3 separate regions of the Homo sapiens genome follow, and all the other regions are linked to region 3. The links come from fine-mapping of genetic effects on gene expression. A gene starts in region 3. Each other region holds a variant in brackets. All regions are shown on one strand. Distances are between the middles of the regions. Region 1 overlaps AFDN (afadin, adherens junction formation factor). Region 2 overlaps KIF25 (kinesin family member 25). Region 3 holds the start of KIF25-AS1 (KIF25 antisense RNA 1).

Region 1 (8,000 bases), 41 kb before region 3:
ATGCTGAGCAAGGAGATCCAGGAGCTCCAGAGCAAACCGGACCGCAGCGCCGAGGAGAGCGACCGGCTGCGCAAGCTCATGCTGGAGTGGCAGTTCCAGAAGAGACTCCAGGAGTCGAAGCAGAAGGACGAAGATGACGAGGAGGAGGAGGACGATGATGTGGACACCATGCTGATCATGCAGCGCCTGGAGGCTGAACGAAGAGCGAGGGTAAAGGGGGGAGTGCTTTGGCTGTGCCCATCTGTGGTCCCTATTTTAGCTTCTGCGTGTTTCCCATGGGGATAGCTAGGCCCCTGATCGTGATAAGGATTAAAAGGGCCCCTAGGCTTATACTGTTTTATTGTATGTGTTACTCTTGGCTGATGTCGTAGAGAAATGAGTCAGGCCTATAAGGCTAAATTTTTTAAGACATGCTTTGACAAGTATTAAATACAATTCAAATGGAACTTGATTGTTTTCATTAGCAAACTCATAATTATCCTTTTCCTTAACACTTCCAGTTGAGAAAACAAGTATTTGTTAATGACCAGTAATAATCTTGATCCAGGGTAGGCAAAATTTTTCTTCCAGGGCCAGATTGATACTTTAGGCTTTGCAGGCCACGGGGTCTCTGGCAACCCCCAGCTCTGCTGTTGTAGCACAAAAGCAGCCACAGGCACAAGTAAACACATGGGTGTGTCTCTGTACCAATAAAACTTTATTTACAGAAACACAGGGCAGATGACTGTCTGGCCCCTGGTCTTGTCAGCATTTTGTGGTGGTGAACAAAAGAAACTGTTCAGATCATTACATTTACAGTCATTACCAAAAATAGAATCTTCACAGTAGTTGTACTGTTGATGAAGCAAGCATTTGTTAAGGTAATAAACAATTATATTCCAATTGTAGCATAAAGATATTGAGAACTGATTTTATTCTTATTTCTCCACAGTATGAAAATGATTTTTGTTTTAAATAAACTAACAAAAGTATAAATTCGTTTAACACAATAAATTGTGATGCAGAAATTTTAGATAAAAGCAAGACTTTGTTACTCTATAAAGAGAACTGTTAAGAGGCATTTACTGCTATTAATTTGGGCATTTATTAATATTAATTTATAGAGAATGCTATTGACCATATTGTGTTCATGAGTTTTAGTGATTTTTTTTTCTTTTTTAGACACAGTGCAATATTTTGAGAAAAGATGGCCAGAGCCATGTTCTTTTTATCTTTTGGATTCTGTTTCTAATTTCAACTGTTTTTTTATGCTGTTAATGGTAAAGCTCTACCAGGAGCTATTAGGTCAGACATTTTAATCTTTCTACCTCACAATGAAATTTAACCTTAGATAATAATTTGTGAGTCCTTAGATCCTTGGAGCCCAGTAGTGTGATTCTTTTTCGATTTGCTCTGTGAATTTTTCCTGAAAAGTCTCTCTCACACATACTTCTTAATATATACATATCTCAGCCAAAATGTGTGTATATATAAAACTTTGCCCAAAATTCAGCTTGAATCCCCTTAGACACTTAAGTTTCTTAAATGAGGCCAAAGTGTGAATTATTACATTGTTTTACTACTATTTTTATTAGTATTCCTCAAGTCATTAGTAGTAAACTTCCTGATGAGTAGCTGTGTTTACTGTAAGCACTGTTTTATTTGAAAAACCAACCACTACATTAATAGCTATTTTACTTTAAAAGTAGCTTAAAAATTACAGTACTTTAAAAGTACTCTGCATTCCCCTCCCCATCAGAGCTCTCTGAAAGGTGCTGGGCCTGCTGGCGCCAGGTGCATGCTCCTCTGCTCTGGCCAGTGTCGCTCCTGGGTGCACTAAGATGGATTCGTTAGGATCCTAAGGACGTTCATGGCCTTGTGTCACCCACACCCCAAAAGATGAAAAGATGTCTTTTCCTTCGCTGCATTTTCAACTCTGAATATACAACTGTTGTGTATGGCAAATGAGTCAACAGTATCAGCATTTCTTATTGTTATAACTGTATCCTGACAATAATGAAAAATTAGCCTTGTAGTATTTCTGTAAGTATCTTTTTCTGTGAGGACTAAACTTTTATTTAAAGGTCTCTCAGAGTTTTTCCAAATGGGTTAAAACACTGAATATTTCAAAGCCTTTTAGTATGAATTGCGATATTTGGAAAGTTTCTTATGAAAATTTAGTAAAAAATATTTGCTTTTTGCTTAGTAGTTCTGTTACAATTAGTATCTTAGTCTCCAAATAAGAAAGCTAAGGGAAATTTTGCTGTTTTTTATTTTCTATGTATCCTAATGATGAAACTCATTTAATACCATGTGGGCATTTTTCTGTTTCTGAATACTAGAAGTTAGTCTGTAGTTCTTTACCTTTCTCATCAAGTTGTCGAAACACAGATGACGCATGATAGTGAGAAAATATGCCGATGGCAGATTACAGGTCTAAACCTAACTTTTTTTTCCACACTTCATCTTTCTTTTTTTTTTTCTTTCTCTGTTACCTGCAGCAGACTGCTATGCCAGCAATCTCTGTTCTAGATTTGGTATGTTCTTGTTTCTTTCCCTTTGGTACTTTTTTCCTGTCTTGATTTTCTTTTCTTTCAGTGGTGGCTGTTTGATGTTTTCAGTAGATCCAGTTCTCCTTAGGGGTGTCCTCCATCAGGAGATGGAGTCCCTGACACTTTAGAAGCATGCCTTTGAATGTTCCTAGATTTAGTTACTCTTTGCTTTTCTCCGTTAATTTTAAGTGTTACTGTTTGTTTATGGTTTTGACCTTTTCTCGGTTTCAGTCATAAATTGATTCCGTGTATTCTTACGTAGTCATAAATACATGAGCAAATGAAATAAATTTTGTAATGAGTAATCTATTTCATTTTTTTCACATTAGACATAGATTTTAAATATTCAGTTGTTATAAACTCAGCTGAAAGGGTATTGACATTATTTGCCAGTTAAGATATAACTGTCTGTTGGTAGAGTAAGAGATTTCCAGTGAACATGTATTCTATGTTTTCTTTAATAATATAACATGGATTTTAATTCAGTTTATCAGCCATGCCAATTTATCAGTCTGCTGAAAAATACTTGAGGTTCATGGTCTGTTGTAAATTCAAAGTGTTCATTGTCATATTGGGGAAGTTTGGCTCATCGTTTAGGGCCCATTATGCTTGCGTATGGTATCTTTATCACCTGCTAGACAATTATACTCTGATATATTTATATAAACTTGAAGACAAATTCTAGTCAACTTATAAAGACAAAAGCCAATATCAGACGGTACATTTAAAACCTGTGAATCAAGGTTTGACTTTAGTGGCCTTTTCACCAAATAATAGTCCCCTTTTCCTTCCCCCCTCAGTTTAGCACAGCGGTAATAACACCTTAGAGAGGAACCTTTCTTACAAACACCTTCCCTCCTTGGTGATTGGAAGGCATATTTTCTGAGCTTTGCATTTTTTTTTTTACATGAAACAAAGATTTAAAAGTTATACATTTTTCTCCCTACTTCTTTGTGTGTTTTGATGTACATAAGTGTAGCTGGAAGATATTGATCAGAGTCACCTTAGTGTGAGATATTCATTCAGCAAATACTTGCTCAGCATCCATGACACGGTGGGCACTGACCTGAGGCATTGAAGATACCAGCCAGCTCTCAGGCCCAAAGAGAGTTTCTTATACTATGAAGAATTCTGTGACACATGAACAGTAAAATAATGCTTGCAATAAGGTTTTTGTTCCATAGAAATAATTCAGAGAGTTTCTTTCTTTAGAAGATAATTATTTTGAGTATTAATATTGATCTTAACCACATGTTTCTGAGCATTTCTTAGCCCAGTTCCCCAGTACATATTATTAACAGCACCTCATTATTTATAAAATTCTTGGGTGGGCACAGTGGTTCATGCCTGTAATCCCAGCACTTTGGGAGGCCGAGCAGGTGAATCACCTGAGGCCAGGAGTTCAAGACCAGCCTGACCAACATGGTGAAACCTCGTCTCTACTAAAAAT[A/G]CAAAAATTAGCTGGGCACAGTGGCGGGCACCTGTAATGCCAGCTACTCAGGAGGCTGAGGCATGACACTTGCTCGAACCCAGGAGGTGGAGGTTGCAGTGACCAGAGATTGCACCACTGCACTCCAGCCTGGGGAACAGAGCGAGACTTTGGCTCAAAAAAAAAAAAAAAAAAAAAAAAAACTATAGAATTCTTTTTATGTAAGAATTGGCAGGTTACCCTAGGAGACCCTCATCTGTGAAGATATTAGCCCTCTCCTTAATAAGGATAAGGGCAAATATGTGACTATATAGGGAGTGACACTACCCAGTATGGTTCTTAAGATATTTTCTTAGACACATCACAGGATTTTCAGGTAGGTAATTAGAGAAATGAGGCAGGTCTTTTCCTGTTTGGAAGCAGCTGAGTTTCATAAAGTTGGGAGGCTGCCTGCACTCGTTTCTGCTCTTCCCTCTGGTCTCTTTGTGACCCATCACCCCTGTCAGTCCAGGGCCTACCTTCTCCATCCTCTGTGCTCACTTCCGACCTGAGACGGTAGCACCACTTTGATGCCAGCAATATCCTCATTTGATTTCTAGTCCAAACTTCTCACATACTAAAGACTCAGATATCCACCTGCCCATGTAACATCTCCACATGGAGTCAAGTAAGACTTTTGGAATGCAGCATGCTCAAAGTGAAATCTTTGTCTGCTTCACTCACCTTGCACTGCTCATCATTCTGCCTTCAGCCTTCCCCATTTCAGCTGATGCTTCGAGTTGCTCAGGCAAGAAACCTCACAGTCATGCATGACCCCCTTTTTTCTCTGTTCAGAAACTCTACTGGCTTGACCTCCTCACAACCTGACCAATCTCTGTGCCCCCGTGACCAGAGCCTCTCTCCTTTTCCTGCCGGGGTCACTGCGAGAGACTGGCAGGATCCCTCGGTACTGTCCCCCAGTCCCTTCACAGGACAGCCTTGACATAGCATACAGCAGTCTCACGAGAATGTCCTCACAGCCCTCCTAAGTCTCTCCTTTCACTTAGACAGGCGGTCTAAGTTTGCTCGGGTCTCATCTCCTCTTCACACCCTTGCCCACTGGCCCTCCAGCCTGCCTGCCTGCCTTCTAGTGACCCTCCACATGTTGGGCCGTCGGGAGGGTCCCTGCCTGTCTCCATGGCTGACCCTCTTGGCACATGCAGGTGTCTCTCAGATGCCACCTTTCTGGGGGGGCCCACCTGCCCCCACTGCTTCATATGGGGGGGGCCCACCTGCCCATGCTGCTTTGTATCAGGGGCCCACTGGCCTCACTGTGTCCTGTGTGTTTTTCTGTGGACATGCTATACACATTACTCATCATTAGGCATGTTTGTCTCTTCTGGGTAGCGCCACCTCCATGGGAACAGTGACCTTTGTCCAAGTTTCTAGAAGAGTTCTGGAGTGTGGTAGGCAGTCGAGTGAGTGGGATCGGATTCCAGGCCAAGGTCCCAAGCTCTCGAAGGTGTGTGACCTTCCTGACTGTTAGCATCTCAAGAGTAAAGCTGTTACTAGGTTGTTTCCTATTTTAATGACTGAGATGGTGTGTAAGTCATGTTCAAACCAAAGTCTGACTTGCTGGAGGGATCTCCTTCAGCACTAGATTATGATGAAGCCCATTGTGTCGTTAGGGCTTTTCCTTTATATCGCATGGGCAAATCCAGGACACCTGGAATTCGTCAGGATGTCTGCTTTCTCCTGGCAGAGTACTCTGTCCTAGCCTTGGAACCTGTCTCTAACTTGAGTAGCCGGTTAGTTAGGACCATGGAGGTGGCCGTGACTGTGGCTGCAGCTTTGCCTGGCTGCAGCCTCGAGAAGTAGCTAGTCCTTCCACCTGATGACAAGGTGTGTGATTCGTGCCTTCATTGCTCCAGGTTGCCACATAACTGCATATATTCCTCTCATTTCCTCATGACAAAGCTATTCTATGGCAGAGCACAAGGGCCTAAGCCAGCATGGAAGAGATTGACCCAGTATCACACAGAGCACGTGAGAGCCAGGGTCCCCAAACCCACCATGGGAGAGACTTTGCCAGTACATGTTGAACATTCCTAATCTGAAAATTCAGAATCCAAAATCCAAAACTCTTTGAGCACCGACATTATGCCACAAGTAGAAAATTCCACACCTGACCTCAGTGAGAGGTTGTAGTCAAAGCTTCGTTTTATGTCCAAAATTATTTCAAATATGTTATAAAATTACCTTTAGGCTATATATATAGTGTATATGAAACAGAAATCAATTCATATTTAGACTTGGGTCCTGTTTCCAGGAAATCTCATTACATATATGCAAATAGTCCAAAAATAAAAAATCCAAAATTTGAAACACTTCTGGTTCCAAGCATTTTGGATAAGGGATACTCTGCTTTGTATCACATGGATCAGGTGAGAGTGAAGGTTTTAACGAGAGTTTTCTGAATTCATATTACGTGCCCTTTCTAGGACACAAAAATGCCTCTTTTTGTAACACTGTAGTGGCAGGAACCATTTTCTCGAAATTTACTTGGTTTGACAAATCTCTCAGTGGCTAAGCTCAGGTTTGTCTTGTTAACACGTTTTAATGGATCATCTGCTGACTCAGAAAACATGAGAACTCACAGGAGAAATTCCTCCCCCTTGGGGTAATAATACCAGTGAAAAGATGTTTTCAAAGAGTTCCGTGGTTCTGCTGCTTTCCTTACATGAAAGCCCAAGCTAGGTCTTCCCTCCTCTTCCGCTTTCTTGTTTTTGTTTGCTTGTTTTTGCGTGGAACTGTAGAAATTGGACATGCCCCTCTTGAGCATCCCAGGTATAGAAGGGGTTGAATTAAAAGCCTTATAAAAATTTCAAGCAGGAATTAGTAGGAAGCCTAATTTCAGAATTGTTTCTTCAGAGAAATCTATCTGGGGGAAGTCAGACTGTATTTTGTCTATTCAAATTGGAGTGCCTCTAGAATGAAAATGGGCCCTGCCCAGAATATCAGAGCCACAGTGTAGTCACAGTGCATCTTCAGGAAGTCTCAGTTTTACTCAAGGAATTAGGAGAAGAAATATGTATTAAAACCAACACGTATATATTGCAGAATGGAATACAAAGTTTGTATGATTGCGTAAAACAGTTGCCCTAAAAGAACTTCAAGTTTCTGTTGTAGGCCTCTTTGAGCCACACTGTCTTCCTTGTGGATTACGGTGTTAAGTCTCTGCCACAAGGGCGTTTCACCAGCTAAGCTCTAGATCTTACAACTTCTAATAAAATGGTCATTTTACTTAAATCTGAAAAAAGTGTGTGGGCTGTGCTACAGGAAGGGAGCTAGCACTTACTGAGGACCAGGTGCTACAGTGGATGGTTTTTCCTGTGTCATTTAATACATTCTACCACTGTGAGAGAGGACTTCAGTTTCCTAATGAGGAAATCGGTCCCTAAGACATAGAGTAGACTTTTGCTTGGTCTAAAAACCAGGTGTTATGTCACTTACCAGAGGTACTCCGATTCAATCATTAATTTGTAATAAATGATCAGGTGTTTTCTTCATGTTTTTGTCCCTAAAATTTTTTTAGGGTGGACATTTTTAAAGGGAGGGAGCATAGGCAGAAAAAGTCTGTAGAGTAAAAGGCTTTTTAAGGGCTTTAACAGAGTCGTGTTTTCAGTAATTTGTCAAAAAGTAAAGGGTATTATGACCCCATTTTATGTTCAGATACCAGTTTCATTTTCATGATACAAAATTATAAACACACAGATCTCAACATATACACACACATATATATGTATATAAAACCTGAAAATACCTGTTTTGGGGAATGTGGACTACCCATATAGCAGAACCTTGGTTCAAGCTTGCTACATACTGGCTTTCAAATCCCAGTGTAGTTCTCGATTTAGAATAACTTTCAGTCTGCATGGTCTTGATTCATCGGGTAATAGTTATTTTTTAATCTATTCTGCACTCTCCTCAAAGATCACTTCCTGCAAGGCTATTTTGGTAGCATGTAACTTTTCATTCTTTTAATCAAAGTGCTAATCTAA
Region 2 (8,272 bases), 23 kb after region 3:
GAGCACTAGGATTACATTCTGGCATAGCATCAAAGGAACGGTCCCCGAAGTGGACAGCAGAAAAATGAAAATATGCCGCGAGAAAGGAGCAAAGGGCCTAGGCTGGCGGTTGGATTAGGGACTGGGAGGTCTGTTCTTATGGCGAGGCCAGGGGCTTGGTCCTGGCGGGTGTCGGAGTTTTGCTTCGGTGTTTTGAGCGTGAAGGGAACTGAAGAGCTGCTTCTGGCTTAGGGGATGTGACATTATCATGTAAGAACATGCAGGTTCCGAAACAGTTTCTGGTACACAGTGACTGCCCAGTAAATACTCAGCAGAGACATAAGCTTCTTCTGTGAAAGCCGTGCCGGAGCACGAGCACGCGCAACCTCCACATCCTGGTGGTCGTTTCTGTGCTGCGATGGAGACCACGGACCGCCCCAGCCACCGGCTGCTCCTCCCGGCATTGCCAGAGTCACTGTGGTGGGGCCTGCATCCCCACCCACTCTCCCAAAAGTCATCCCAGGAAATTGGATACAAATCACGGTAGCAAGTGACCTCCCAGTCTACCAAATCCAATAAAGAGTTTTAAACAAGGACCCAAGCGACCTCTCCCCAACAGGTGGCATTCTGCGTCACCCACTCCCTCCCTCTTAACTTTCTTTCTTTGGCTTCGGTGACTTCATCTGCTTTCTTCTTTTCTAATTTGCATTTGAGAAAGATTTCTACAGCAACAACATAAAGGACAGGTGGGAGGGGTGCTGGACTGGAGGCAGAGGCCAGTTAGGGGATAGCCAGGGCGCTGTTTCATTACACTGGACAATAGCAGTGGGCATGGGGCAGGGAGCAACCCAAGGCTGCCTACGAGGCACAGCCGAGGCTCTGTCCCCAGGCAGCGCGGGGCTGAGGCTGGCGTTCCGTCATTGCTTCCTGAGCTGCCCCACTGAGAGACACGCCGGGGATTCCCACGGCCTCTCACCTCTGGCAAGACAGGACAGGTTCACTATTTGATTATCTCAGCATTTCACATCGGAGACCTCACAGAATCCAGAGGCAGCAATAGTCCGGCAGCTGCCCACGACTGCCCGTCCAGCAGTAAGCGAGTAACAAACAGCAACAACAACCACAAACAGCTGTTGAATCTCACAGCTTTTGTCTTTATAAAATAGGCCACTTCTTTGACATGTTATTGCAGACACACACACACAGACACACACACTACTAAGAAGAAGGTGTGGAGGTATCATCCTAGCATCCGCTAAACACTGTTATGGAAAAAATCCAGTGCCTCTGGGTTATTCGCCACTGCAGTTGTGGTTTTCATTCTCCCTATCACCCCTGCTATTTCATGAATACACATTTTGTTTTAGAACTGGAACCAATCCAGGTTCATCTTTTCTTTGCTTAAGTGAAACTAAACTAATTTCAGATTTCTTGCTGAAAAATGCCTTTGCTTCCCTTACACAGGATATAATTTAAGAATACAGTCCAGCAAGATCGAAATTTGTTTTTGAAACAGACATGTTAGTTCCACTGGTTACGATGGAATATAATGATGTCTGAGATGTGATTTTTTTGCCATTTGAAAACCTCTCCTGCGAACTGTCAAGGGCCCTTAGAGTCAGTAATTTGGGTGTTGAACCCTCAGCCTGTGGCAGATTGAGGAGCTCTGTTGTGTGTTCCCCAGTAGATGCGACTTTCTTCTTCTCTTTATGGGGGTCGGCAAACCTTTTTGGGAAAGGGCCAGGGAGTTAATATTTTCGTCGTTGAAGGCCACGTGGTCTCCAACTCAATCATCCAGCTTTGCCCTTGAGGAAGAAGCAGCCATACACAGTCTGTAAACAAAGGACGGGGCTGTGTTCCAGGCAAACTTTGTTGTTTACAAAAACAGGCGGCAGGCTGGGGTTGGTGGGGCTTGTGTTTAATTAACGCAGCACACAAAGTCTTATGACGTCGTTTTACTCTTTTCTCTCAGGAAACAATTCTGGTGAAATGTGATCGTCCTGGCCACCCTCTGATTGATAAGACATATCATTTTGAAAGGTAAGTGCTTTTCAAGATGTCCTATAAAGCAAACTTCCATATTAAAAATACAAATTTTGCATTGGGGTTTGAGTAATGAAATATGTAATTTATCCTATCATTTGACTAATTGTGATTATAAATACAGACGGTCCCTGAGGTAGATTTTTCAACTTTAGGAAGGTGTGAAAGAGATACACATTCAGTAGACACTATGTCTCGAGTGCCCATTACAACCCTTCTGGTTTTTGCTTTCAGTACAGTACTCAGTAAACTACGTGAAACAGTCAACACTTTAGTGTACAAGCTTTCCATTTGGTGATTTTGCCCACCTGTAGGCTAATGTGTGTGTTCTGGGCACACTTAAGGCAAGCTAGGCTGAGCTACAATGCTTGGTAAATTAGGTGTATCAAATGCATTTTCAACTTGCAATATTTTCAACCTACAATGGGTTTCTCAGGTCACAACCCCATCATAAGACGAGGGACATCTGTAATCCATATGTTCATTGTTTTAAGTAAATAGACATTTTTTATATATCCAGTTTGTTGATAGTAATTTCGTTGTGATGATAGCAACTAACAATAGGGCTTTCTGTCAGATGCCTTCCTCGGCACTGGGTCGTGGTGTATTCCCAGGGTGGTAGGAGAGCCCCGGAAGGCTCAGAATCAATGCGCGTGGCCTTTGGAAAGCCCTGCTCATCCTCCTTCAGCTACCAAGGGCTGGCTGAGTGGTCCTGCTCCCAGGCTCTGTCCTCCTGCTCCTCGGAAGGACGTCAGTGCCTGAGGCCTCTTCCTCTCCCCGGCAGCAGCCTGTGTCGCTCGATAGGGTCACATCTGGAGAAGGGCAGAGGGTTCCCCTCAAGCCTCCGCTGAGCACTGACCAGCACAGGAGCGGTAAGAAGGAGGAGGCCAGGAAAGAACCACCGGGGAGGAGCCCGGGAGAAAGTCTGCAGAGCTCACACAGGCCTGGGAATTGTGAGTGCTCCCGCCGGGGCAGAAATACCTCGTGATACACAAGGCCTTGGGTAGAGTGAGAAGTTAGCCCTGGAGTAAAGGCTGCTGGTGCCATGCGGCAGAACTTAAATGCAAGCCTCGAGGGGTCAAGTTGTTTCCAAGTAACTGCTGGCATCCCATAATAAAGCCGAAGAAAAATTACTGGGATTGGAGGGTCAAAACATGGCGCACCCAGTTAGGAGTAATTAGCAAAGTCTGACATCAAAAATTACCAGACATGATTCAAGGAAGTAGGAAAATATGACCTCTGATGAGAAAACTCAGGCAACGGAAATAGAGCGAGAAATAACACAAATGATAGAATTAGTAAAGAAGGTGAAAACAGTTGTTATAAATCTGTGTGTTCAAGGAAGTAGAGGAAAATGTAAACACGTTGAGTGGAGATATGAAAAATTATAAAAAGACCCAAATAAAACATCTGGAGATGAAAAAAATGCCATAGAGGAGACGCGAACGTACTGGTTGGGATGCAGGAGAAAGACGGGTGAGCTTGAGGCCGCAGCAA[C/G]AGAAATGACCAACGTGAAACCAGGGAGACTCCATAGCGAGTGGACAGAGTGGGCTCCGGGGACGGCTGGGCTGACGCAAGCCCCACAGTGCGAATGAGCTTGAGGCCCCTGGACGGCACACTTGAAATGGTGAAAATGTCAATTTTGTTATATGTATTTTTTTACCACAATTAAAAAGGAAGTGAACAGAGCATCATGGCGCCATGGGACCATGATGTATTGGCTTCCAAGAAGCCAAATACAGCGGGAGTTGCAGTCCCAAAAGGTGACGGGAGTGGGCGCTCAGAGAACATTTGAAGAAGTCGGCCGGAGGTGGGGCGCGGTGGCTCACGCCTGTAATCCCAGCACTTTGGGAGGCCAAGGCGGGTGGCTCACGAGGTCAAGAGATCGAGACCATCCTGGCCAAATGGTGAAACCCTGTCTCTACCAAAAATACAAAAATTAGCTGGGTATGGTGGTGCACACCTGTAATCCCGCTGCTTGGGAGGCTGAGGCAGGAGAATCGCTTGAACTCAAGATGTGGAGGTTGCAGTGAGCTGAGATTGTGCCACTGCACTCCAGCCTGGTGACAGAGTGAGACTCCATCTCAAACAAACAAACAAACAAACAAACAAACAGAGAAACACCAGAGATAAAATGACCAGAGTGAAAAGACACGTTGAAGACTCAGGGTCAGACATGAAAATGACCTTAGGCTTCTCCACAGAGCAATGCAAATCAAAAGATACAGGACCAGCACCTCTAAAGTACGGAAAGAGAAACAGTCCATCCAGAGTTCTGTGCCAGTGAAAATGTCTTTCAAATACAAAGACATTTCCAGACATGGGAAAGCTGAGAGAATTAATCGCCAGAGACACACCACAAGGAGTGTACAACGGATTCTGTCCTGAAGGACATGTGGGCATATGCAAAAGACGCTTTTTCTTATTAAAAAAAAAAAACTCTTCCAAATCTAGTTAACTGATTAAAGAAAAATAACAATGGATTGTGGAGCTCATGACACATGCAGACATAAAATGCACGTGAGCAACAGTGTGAAGGCTGGGAGTGGGCGTGCAAGTGTACTTTCGTATGGTCCTTATTTGGTATGTTAGGCGATAGAATCCGATTGCAGGCAGCCTCTAAGTTACATATGGTAAACCCTAAAACAACCACCAAAGACAATAACAAGCTAGAGATATATACAATAAGCTAACAAAAAAAGATACATGGAATTATAAAAAATCCTCAATCAAAAATAAATGTCAGGAAAAAGGGAAAGAGGATTTAAAAGATGGAAAAAGGAAAGGGATGGAAAAGATATATTTACCTGAATGCTAACATTAATCAGAGGAAAGCTGTTCTATATCTCAATAAAGCTATTTTAAAAACAAATAAAGGCGGTCAATACAATGGCAACCCAAATCATAGCAGGATGTTTTGTAGAAACGAAAAAGCTGATGATAAAATTTATATGGAAAGGTGAAGGAACTATAATAGCCGAAACAACTTGGGAAAAGGACAGAGTTGGAGGACTCACACTACCCGATTTAAAGACTTAAAATCATTAAGACAGCGTGATAGAGGCAAACCAACAGACACATCATCAATGGAACGGAGAAGAGTTCAGAAATAAACCCACACAGATGCAGGCAGCTGACTTTAATAGTTTTACTCTTTTAATGGTGGGGGCTGTCCTCTTAATTTATAGTATTCTGAGATATCTACCTTCCATGTTGTTAAGAGAATTTTTCTGGAAGAGCAGGAGAAACCCATTTTCTATAAAATATCTGTCCCAACATCAAAGTCATCAAAAGAAGCAGCAAGAACCGACCCTGCCTCCCCAGCTTCCGCTGCTTCAGAGGAGAAGCTCCCTCGAAGACAGATCATGGTGAAGTTTTCCCCTTTCTCTCTGCTTCAAATGACGCACGAGTTTACATACTGTGCTAACCTATTTCTGTTTATACAATTCATGTGCTTTTATATATAAAATTTATAATTGTAGAAAAATATACCTGACATAAAAGTTTACCATTTTAGCCATTTTTAAGTATACAGTTCAATGGGACAAAGTATGATCTGGTGCAACCATCACCACTATCCATCTTCACAGTGTTTTTTGTCATCCAATCCTGAAACTCCAAACCCATTAAACACTGAATTGCCTGTCTCCCCTCCCTCAGCTGCTGGTAGCCACTGTTCCATTTTCTGTCTGAGAAGTCTTATCTAAGGCATCTGTGCATTTTATCGAAGTCTGGTAGGGAAGGGATGTTCTTTGCAATAAGCCATTCTGGAAATTACAGATAGTGCTGGGATTTCTTAGCCTTTGCGGTCGTTCAGGATCTCAGAGCATGGGTAAAGTTCAACGTTATCAATTTTTTCTCTAGATGCTTTTAAGAGTTTTCTCTCTGACTTCAGTGTTCCAAATCAAAGTGAAGCTGCACTGTTTCACTCGGCAGTTGCTGAGTTTTTTGTTTGTTTTATTTTATTTTATAATACTGCTTGGGACTTTTAATCTTTGAATTAATGTCATTCTTTAAGTTGAACAATTATCAGGCAAAATCTTTTTAAAAGTACTTTCTCTCCTTCTATCTATATCCTTTTAATGAAATTCCTATTAGATATAGATTAGACCTTTTCATTCTACCATCTGTGTCTCTACCATTACCCGCTTTTGAGATGATCGCCTTCCTTGTATCTCTCTGCTGCATTCTGGGTAATTTTCCTGTGACAATCTTTTAATTAATTCACTTATTCTCTCTTCATCCATGGGTAAACTTCCATTTAACCCATCTGTTTTTCGTGCTTGTAAATTATTTGGCTCATTTTTAAATCTTCTTACCCTTTTAAAAATAGTCTTCCATTTTCCTTATGTTTTGTGTTCCTTATTTTGTATCTTTACTGATTTATTTTTTATTTTTTAGTGACAGACTCTCACTCTATCACCCAGGCTGGAGTGCAGTGCTGCAATCATAGCTCTCTGCAGCCTTGAACTCTTGGCCTCAAGTGATTGTCCCACCTCAGCCTCCCGAGTAGCTAGGATTACAGGCATGACTTTATTCATGTTTAACATTGTTTTCTTAAGTCTCTTTCAGAATGTTCTATTGTGTCTGGTTCTTGTGGCGGCTGCTGTATTACTTGTATCTTTGTTGCCACTGACTGTAGTGATTTATTTATTTTGTGTTTTATAAGTTTTTACTGCGAACTTATCTTTGGTGAGGAGTTTTTTTGATTGTTTGTTGTTGTTGTTTTTTTTTTTTTTTTTGGTAGGAGACTTGTGTACTCTTGGCTGTGGGTTTGCAACTATGATTTTTCCTGCAAGGGCCTGGGGTTTCACAAAAGTTCTGAATCAGTTTTCAGGTAACGTTTGTGGTTTGTGATTTCTCTGCCCTGTGGGCTCCTTGCATTTGGATTCTGTGCTCACTTGCGGTGCAGGTGTGAGGCTTTGATTGCTCACAGGAGACCTGACTCCTCATCTAGACTCTCAGGCACGTGGAATACTTTCTTACCACTTATCTGGACCCCCTTTTCAGGGACTAGGCCTATCTTTGAGTGCCCTGGACTTGCACAGCCATGGCACCTCCATGTCCTGCCTGCTGTCTCCAGAGGGCAGAAAACCCTGCCTTGTAAGCCCTGTTGCTTCTGTCTGGATTGGTTCCTCAGCCTGGGTGCTTGCAGTACCAACTCAAGCCTTCTACCCAGCCTTTTTCCACTCTTCATTTCTTGCACCTAGGAAGTTTCCTTCTTCCTTTTTTTTTTTTTTTTTTTGAGGAGTCTTGTTCTGTTGCCGAGGCTGGAGTACAGTGGCACAATCTCAGCTCACTGCAAGCTCCACCTTCTGGGTTCGAGCGATTCTCCTGCCTCAGCCTCCCAAGTAGCTGAGACTTCAGGCATGCACCATCACATCCGGCTAATTTTTGTATTTTTAGTAGAGACAGGGTTTCACCATGTTGGCCCAGCAGGTCTTGAACTCCTGACCTCAAGTGATCGGCCCACCTTGGTCTCCCAAAGTGCTGAGATTACAGGCGTGAGCCACCATGCTGGCTAATATTTGTATTTCTAATAGAGACCGGGTTTCACCATGTTGGCCAGGCTGGTCTTGAACTCCTGAACTCAAGTAATCCATCCGCCTCAGCCTCCCAAGGGCTAGGATTAAAGGCGTGAGCCACCGTGCCCAGCCAGTTTCCTTTCTTTCTTCCCTTCAACGTCAGCAGCATATTTTAAAACATATTTTGTTTCTATTTTATCTGCATTACTTACATGTTGGTTAGGGGAGAGAAAGGGAGTTGTATCTTAGCCACCATGTGTCGCGATCTGGTGCTTCAGAGACAGTGCACTTTGCAGAATGTGTTTTACTACTCAAGGATTGCAATAATATTAGAATCTGTATAGTCTCATGCATTTTTATTATTTACTGAAAAACATTTTATTTGTATATCTAAAACCAAATAACTTGATTTTTTTCCCCTAAAATAATCATATTTAAAAATCTCACTATGAATACTCAAGAAAATTTTCATCAGTTTCACATGTAATAAAGTAGCTTCCTGAAGAAACTTCCATACACGGTGCTGGTGGTTCAATGGATTTAATTTGTAAGAGCAAAGCCAGTCTTCACGTGCAAAAGCTTTTTCTCATGTCTGTGCACTAAAAACAGTATAGAGAAAAATGATACTTTTTATCAGTGTAGAAAAGAAGCAAATTTATGAGCACTTTGGAGTAATAGCCCCATGGCTTAGCTTCATCATGTTTGTTTATGCAAACACTTGTGGA
Region 3 (8,272 bases):
GAGCTTCCAGAAGGCAGGTCTGGATAGTAGATTAGGAGGGTGGTCCCCATTTCACAGGCGGTGATGAGAGGCTCTGAGCCTGAGCCAGCATCGTGAGGAAGTCAACAATAGACGGAAACACGGCTCGCGCCCAGCATCGCCCCACCGTGCAGTGAGCGGCCCTTCCTACGGAAATTGGTGAAACACTTGACTTTCTGTTTCTTAAATACTTTAAGGGCATAAAATCACATGTACTGCTTTGAAAGTAGAAATCCCAGATGTATTGAGTCAGAACTTCTGTAAGTGAGCCGAGGCACAGGCAGCATGAAAACAGTCCTGGCGGGCATCGACAGGCCCGGGCCGAAGAACTTCTGCTTTACACCCTTCCAGTTAACAACATATCCCTTATATTAATTGTGTGGGTATGTTATTATTCTATAGAAACATATATAACAAATTCTTATGTAATTATACTGTGATCATTAATCATATAATTTTATGAATCGTGTATGTTCTTATTTTATAGAAACTTAACCAGGATATACAGGCGTTTCATTCTTCTTCTCGGGCGCTCTTAAGAGATTATCAGGATGAGTATCAGGACCGTGTTTCTGAAATAGTGACCGCGGTGCAAAGAACACAGCAGAGTGCCGAGACCCTGCTAGGTAGGAGGGCACCTTTCACCGAAGCCGGGCCAGTCCACACTCGAGAGAAATGTTTGCAGTTTTAAGAAAATGACCGGCTAGAATTTAAGTTTCCATTTCTTCTTCCTTTTAGCTGACACCAAATTCCACAGGTGAGGGCAGGCACTGTGTGACTCGGCCACGCTGGCAGGTGCACTGCTCCCTCCCAGCTCCCACTGCAGCCCTGCTTGCTGGAGGAGCTCCTTGTTCTCCTGGTCACCACAGGGCACTTCCCCGGTCTTGACGGTCACTGCTGAACTGGCACCTGTGTCCACGTTGGGCGTTCTGTGTCAGAGTTTCCTATAATATGACGTGAGATTTTTTTTTTTTTGTCTTATCAGTTCAGTTCTTTCTTCATTTCTAAGAATGCCACAGCATTTTGGCTACTCTTTTGTTATAATGGATTTATTATCTTCAGCTACTGTGCTTGAAGCCTGTGGAAGAGGTTACTTTGGTTCTGCAGTTTTAAACTCATCGTCCAAATTGCACTAGCCGGCCAGGCCCGATGGCTCATGCCTGTAATCCCAGCACCTTGGGAGGCCGAGGCGGGCAGATCACATGAGGCCAGGAGTTTGAGAGCAGCCTGGGCAACAGGGTGAAACCCGTCTGTACTAAAAATACAAAAATTAGCCGGGTGTGGTGGCGCATGCCTTCGATCTCAGCTACTTGGGAGGCTAAGGCAGGAGAATTGCTTGAACCCGGGAGGCAGAGTTTGCAGTGAGCCGAGATCGCACCATTGCACTCCAGCCTGGGCGACAGAGCAAGACTCTGTCTCAAAAAAACAAAAGAACCAAATAGCACCATCCCCACGTTCGTCTCATGCTCACAGCTTCTGCCCAGTGTTCAGTGTGTCCACAGGCCAAAGAGATGATGGTCAAGTTAGGAACTTGGTCAAGGGTTGTGCTGCTGATATTCCAAAATAGGTGTGTGGAAACTTTGGAACCTGTACTGATCTTCTGCGAGGCTACATGATGTTTTATTGAAATCACTGCTGTAGCCTAGTTTTCTTCAGTGCACTCTGCTCAGTAACTCCCCTAAGGCCGTGTTTGTAGGAGTGACGTGTGCATGCCTGTGTTCTTTTTTTGGGGGGCGGGGGGCGGCGGGGGACAGAATCTCACTCTGTCGCCCAGGCTGGAGTGCAGTGGCGCCATCTCAGCTCACTGCAACATCTGCCTCCTGGATTCAAGCTATTCTCCCACCTCAGCCTCCCGAGTAGCTGGGATTATAGGCGCCTGCCACCACGCCTGGCTAATTTTGTATTTTTAGTAGAGATGGGGTTTTACCATGTTGGCCAGGCTGGTCTCGAACTCCTGACCTCGGGTGATCTGCCCGCCTCAGCCTCCCAAAGTGCTGGGATTACAGGCACGAGCCACCACAGCCGGCAACGCCTGTGTTCTTATAAGCCATGTGCTCCAGGGAAAGGGACAATCATGTTATTTTGTGAAAAGCAGTGTACTTAAGCTTTGAAAAGGTGAAACTCAAAGGGAGAAGCAGGGAGCCGCCAAGGCTCTCCCGCAGAGGGAATGCTGACGTGTGAGGAGGCAGGGCCTGCTGAGGCCCTGCCTGTGGGAGCCACGGTGCAGTCCTGCCACACAGAGGGGTCCCCAGGCGGCTTATTTGTGCCCAGGCGTTAGGCTCAGGGGCTCGGGGCCTCCTTACCTGGCTTCCCTGGGGGCGCGACTTCTCCCCTCGAGTTCCATGCTCCTCAAAGATGAGCCTCAGCCACCTCAGGTGCCCAGGCAGCTCCTTTCAGCCGTGCTGACAAGAGGGATAGTGGGGACAGGCTGGTGGCTGGGGCCGGACACACTCAAGGCTCAGATGACCAAGTGACTGGGAGGGTCTCTCTCTTGCTGTGGGGGACCCTTCCCGCTTTCTTACGCCCACATTCAGTCTGGACCCGGTAACGGGTGTTTCTTTCAGAAAGGGAGCGTGCGCAGTTCTGCAAGTCCAGCTTGGTTTCAGGCCTCATGAGAGCTGCATCTGCGCTGAGGGGTCCTTGTCCCTGCAGGTCCTCGGGCCTGGGGTAGAAAGCCCCAGGCTGGGCTGCATCCTTTGGCTAAGTGACATGTGGAGGGGTCCCTGGCTATCATGACGCGTACAGCCGCGAGGCGTCCTCTGCAGCACGACACCGAGCTCCATGTCACACTCACGCTGCCTCCACGGCAATGGCCAGTCTGGGGATTGGGGTGTCCACGCTCGTCCAAGGCCCCCACGCGATGCCCACTCATCGCCACATCACCTGGCACCATCCTGGTAGGACAGAGGCGGGAGTAGAGGCCCAGGCCACTGTAACAATCCACAGCAGCAGAGCTGGGCCCCAGCATCTCCTTCCCTGCCCCACTCCCCCCTCACCAAGGGCTCCCAGGTGCTTTAGGAGCAGAGACCTCCTTGGCTGCCATGCAGACGATGGAGCAGCATTCACGGGCTGATGGCATTTGAGGCTGATGACGGACGGGGTGACTGTGGGGCCAGGTCCCCCAGGCGAGCTCTGTGAGTCCTTGGTCGTGGTGGAGACAGCGCAGCCTGGGTCCAAAGCAGTGAGGAGCACAGGCCACAGCACGCAGCCGGCCCTGGAGGACTCCATTATTTTTAAAAATGTCTCCCATACTTAGAGAAAGGAATTTGACCTGCTGGGCCCCATGGATGTCCTCTCCGGTAAAATGCCTCCGTCCCTTTGTCCTTTCAGCATGCCAGTCAAAGGTGGCGCACCTGGAGCGGGCCTTGCAGGACGTCAGTGCGCGTCACCAGCTGGAGAGGCAGAGAAGGAAGGTCCCGCACAACAGCCTGGTGGTGGGTGTGGGCGTCAGGGGAGACCTGGGGCGGCCCCGGGGAGAGGCCCACGCAGAACGTGCAGAAGCCTCCTCGCCGGAGGGACAGCGGGAGGGACAGCGGGGGGACAACAGGGGGGACAGCGGGGGGGGGACAGCGGGGGTGTGACAGCGGGGGGGACAGCGGGGGGGGACAGCAGGGGTGGACAGAGAGGTGGACAGCAAGGGGGACAGCGGGGCGGCCTGGCCGGAGGGCAGAGGGGCAGAGCTGCGGGGGCTGCGACCTGCGTCCTCTTCACCCAGGAGGCGATGGCAGCTGGAGGACGGGTGAGGGCGCCGCAGGCTGATTTAGGCTTTCGGGGTCACTCTGGCTGCTCGGTCGGGAGGCCACGACGGGGAGCAAAGGGGATGGCTGCAGTGTCACGGGGGCTGGTGGCCTGGGCCACATTGGTGGCGATGCAGGAAGTGGGACCGGCTGCTGTGAGGCACAAGGAAAGAGCTGTAGCGGGCAGTTGGGGGCGGGGGAATCTGCAGAGATGGGGGCGGGGGAATCTGCAGAGATGGGGGCGGGGGAATCTGCAGAGATGGGGGGCGGGGGAATCTGCAGAGATGGGGGGTCGGGGGAATCTGCAGAGATGGGGGGCGGGGGAATCTGCAGAGATGGGGGGTCGGGGGAATCTGCAGAGGTGGGGGCGGGGGAATCTGCAGAGATGGGGGCGGGGGAATCTGCAGAGATGGGGGCGGGGGAATCTGCAGAGATGGGGGGCGGGGGAATCTGCAGAGATGGGGGGCGGGGGAATCTGCAGAGATGGGGGGCGGGGGAATCTGCAGAGATGGGGGGTCGGGGGAATCTGCAGAGATGGGGGGCGGGGGAATCTGCAGAGATGGGGGGCGGGGGAATCTGCAGAGATGGGGACTTGCGCGGGAAAAGCAAGGATTTTGCTGTAACTGGAGATGCCGGTGGAGACTGCCCCTGCCCCTGCCCCTGCCCCTTCCTCACCAGCACCTTCCACCCACGTCTCTCACTGCCCATTAACAAGACCCAGAGGCTCTCGTGCTTTCTTGGTCGAAGGTATGAGACCTGAGATCCCATGAAATTTAATGTAAAGTCTCAGGGTTTGATTTTGCAACACGAGGATGCCAAGGTGGATGATTGAGTGGGTGACCCTCGCTTCTGTGAGGTTTGATTTTGATGGTTGCACTTTGGCCAGTTTCTCCGAATTCCACCTGCCCGAGGCCCACGAAGCCAGTGTTCCTGCGAAGCTTCTCTTCCCTGGCCATGCCGAGAGGTTCTCCAGCTGTTAGATGTGTCAAAGAATAATTCTCATTTTAAGCATCTACTTATGTAGTTCAGTGCTCCAAACATTGATATAAGAGAACATTTATTGAGTGCTTCCTGTGTACCAAGTACTTTTGAAACCATTTGGTGTATTTTCTTATTTAATCTTCACAATAGCACCACCTCTCTGGGTTGCTATAAAGACAAAGGGAGATATCAGTGAAGCACCTGGCACTTCAGAAAGTCTCACTACGCTGCAGCTTTTTTTTTTTTTAATCTGGAGCATGAAAAAGATAATATGAACCTTCCTAAGATGGAGTCAAGTCCCACAAGGAAGAATTGGTTGTGGAAGTTTCTGAGTGTTCCACCTCAAGCCTGGTCTCCTGGTCTAGCTGAGGAGCGTGCAGTGCGCGGCCCATGGAGAATATGCAGGCAGAGGCTGATCCCAGCTTCTGTGGGTTCATAGAGACCAGACGGAGGCTGTAAATCATTGGCCTATGACACCCACTTGGTTTTCAAAATGTAGAAGGAGCTGCTCAGCATGACAGGGTGGATAAACTTGCTGTGGATCCAAGACAAGATTTCAGAATGGATTTGGCAAGTTCTGAGCACATACGGAGAAGATGTGTTGCTCACTGGAAACCAGTGGAGTTTATGAGAATAAAAAGCTTCTAATTTCCTTCCAGTCATTAAATCAAGGAAATATGACAGATACTGAATTTCCAAAATCCCCTCTAAAATGCCTAAAATGTCGAGCCCAGGATGCCATTCAAAGGGATTTTCCTTGGTACTTATTACCAAGGGATACCCCTTTGCCAAGTGAACACATTTGTGAAGTATGAATCCAGAAGTTTAAAATAACTGTTCATGGCCGGGCACGGTGGCTCATGCCTATAATCCCAGAACTTTGGGAGGCCGAGGCGGGCGCATTACCTGAGGTCAGGAGTTCGAGACCAGCTTGGCCAACATGGTAAAAACCCTTCTGTACTAAAAATACAAAAATTAGCTGGGCGTGGTGGTGGGCACCTGTCATCCCAGCTACTCTGGGGGCTGAGGCAGGAGAATCACTTGAACCTGGGAGGCGGAGGTCGCAGTGAGCTGAGATTGCATCACTGCACTCCAGCCTGGGCGACAGAGCAAGACTCTGGCTCAAAAAATAAATAAATAAAATAACTGTTCACTACCCTGCAGGGGTCTTTCGAAGTGGAGACAGGTGCTGCAGATCTCACGGCCGCGTCTCAGGAGCTGGTGCCCGGTGCACGTTCAGTGGGGGATGCTCCGCAGTGCAGGCTCGCGCCCGGGTTGACACGCAGACCTCTTGATCATTGCAGGAGCTGAAACGAAATATCAGAGTTCACTGTCGGATTCGTCCTTTGTTGCCTTTTGATAGTGAATCCGACGATCCAGTTTTGCAGAGCAGGTAACCTGTGTTTGCACGGTGTGTGTATGTCTGTGTGCTCAGGGAAAAGACAGAGGAGTGGCACAATTTTAAATGCCGTCTACTGTCCTGTCCCCGGTCCCAAAGCAGGACATTCTCGAGTTGTGGGTGGGGGCTCTGTTTAAGGATGGCGCTGTCTTGCTGACAGTGGACACTCTGCAGCCCTCTGTAATACGGCCTGCAAAAGGCCAAACTGCCTGAGCAGGCCTCTCGTGCGTGGTAGTGGTTCTGCACCTGAGAGGGCGTCCGTCTTTTCGTGGTTTGCCTCTGCGGGGTCCGACCGAACAGGGACAGGCTTTGAATGGACTTTTCCCTTTATGTCACTATATCAAAAAGGGAGCACCCTGCCTTTATGAACCCCAAAGACCACCCACTCCGCCATGCAGGCAGTCAGTGAGTATTGACTCAACTGATACTTTTGACTTAGAGAAAGTTTTGATGGTATTCATGGATACAGCAAAATTATCTGAAGTTCATTTACTCAAATGCTTACTTGAAAACCATACTCAATATGACTTACTTCCTTCCCCATGAAACAAACCCCCTGGAAATCCCCACTCCCATCCTGACCACACCTGACCCTCCCCACTCCCATCCTGACCACACCTGACCCTCCCCACTCCCATCCTGACCACACCTGACCCTCCCCACTCCCATCCTGACCACACCTGACCCTCCCCACTTCCATCCTGTCTACACCTGACCCTCCCCACTCCCATCCTGACCACACCTGACCCTCCCACTCCCATCCTGACCACACCTGACCCTCCCCACTCCCATCCTGTCTACACCTGACCCTCCCCACTCCCATCCTGTCTACACCTGACCCTCCCCACTCCCATCCTGACCACACCTGACACTCCCCACTCCCATCCTGACCACACCTGCCCCTCCCCACTCCCATCCCGACCACGCCTGACCTTCTCGCCCTCCCTCCATAAACCTGCCCCTCCCCACTCCCATCCTGACCACACCTGCCCCTCCCCACTCCCATCCTGACCACACCTGGCCCTCCCCACTCCCATCCCGACCACGCCTGACCTTCTCACCCTCCCTCCATAAAGCTGCCCTTCCCCACTCCCATCCTGTCTACACCTGACCCTCCCCACTCCCATCCTGTCTACACCTGACCCTCCCCACTCCCATCCTGACCACACTTGACCCTCCCCACTCCCATCCTGTCTATACCTGCCCCTCCCCACTCCCATCCTGACCACACCTGACCCTCCCCACTCCCATTGCCGACCACATCTGACCTTCTCACCCTCCCTCCATAAACCTGCCCCTCCCCACTCCCATCCTGACCACACCTGGCCCTCCCCACTCCCATCCTGACCACACCTGGCCCTCCCCACTCCCATTGCTGACCCTCCCGCCACTCCAAGGTGCTGCGCTTCCCGGCTGTCCCAACGCCATATGGGGTTGGCCGTATGCACCAGTTTGCTAGGGGCACTGGGTCCCACTCCTGACTTTGCTTTGCTCAGGCTGTTTTTCTGGTCTTGGTTTCCTCCACTTAATCTGTCCAAATGAGCTTTCCCTGGAGGGCCTGGCTTGAGCCTCACAGTGTTTGCATCCTGCAGTTTAGCACCTGACTTGAGAAGGTCTTTAGAAAGCACTTGGCCGGTTCTACAGTGTGAAACAAGAAATTCGGATCTTTTGATAGTCATTGAAACTTTTTCTTTTCAAAGTGTTTAGACATGATTGTGCTGGCTCTAGTACTTTCTGCACTTTTTTGACTGGTGGCCACTTGTCACTTGTCAAAGGACTGGAAATTGGGCCTGTCGGATACGTCAGTGTGGCGCGGGACAGGCCAAGTGGCCCTCATTCAAAATGTGTGGGACCAGAAGAAGTGTTTCCGATGTTGAATTGTTTCATATTTTCGAATGTTCGTGTTTTGTATGGACCGGTTCAGCAAGATAATCCAGTGGGCATTTTCTTTCAGCGTCATCTCAGTGCTCAAAACGTTTTGGATTTTGGAGCATTTTGGATTTCAGGTTTTTGGATGAGGGATGCTCAGCCTGTAGTTAATGGCCCCCAGCGGTGATCAGCTTTCCTGAACTTGCCTTTTACATGGCACTTCCAGACGGCTTTTGTTACACACCAGCCTCCCTGCGAGCCTCCCACC

What was found.
Region 1: its variant is fine-mapped to the expression of KIF25-AS1 in cerebellar hemisphere (GTEx, PIP 0.98).
Region 2: its variant is fine-mapped to the expression of KIF25-AS1 in prefrontal cortex (GTEx, PIP above 0.99). The same link has a PIP of 0.9 or more in anterior cingulate cortex and cerebral cortex.

Annotation. Positions count from the first base shown.
Region 1 is chr6:167,951,978-167,959,977 of GRCh38, forward strand. It overlaps AFDN (afadin, adherens junction formation factor), which reads left to right. Exons shown (of 34, transcript NM_001386888.1): 30 at 1-210. Among named protein-coding and RNA genes, the nearest start is that of HGC6.3, 24 kb to the right of the region's middle. The variant A/G (reference allele first, on the strand shown) is at 3,982.
Region 2 is chr6:168,016,022-168,024,293 of GRCh38, forward strand. It overlaps KIF25 (kinesin family member 25), which reads left to right. Exons shown (of 13, transcript NM_030615.4): 5 at 1,952-2,019. Among named protein-coding and RNA genes, the nearest start is that of KIF25, 22 kb to the left of the region's middle. The variant C/G (reference allele first, on the strand shown) is at 3,520.
Region 3 is chr6:167,993,192-168,001,463 of GRCh38, forward strand. It overlaps KIF25-AS1 (KIF25 antisense RNA 1), which reads right to left and starts at 3,886. Exons shown (of 4, transcript NR_103750.1): 1 at 3,715-3,886; 2 at 3,047-3,410; 3 at 2,322-2,912; 4 at 996-1,273. KIF25 (kinesin family member 25) reads left to right here and starts at 4,480. Exons shown (of 13, transcript NM_030615.4): 1 at 4,480-5,679; 2 at 5,901-6,129.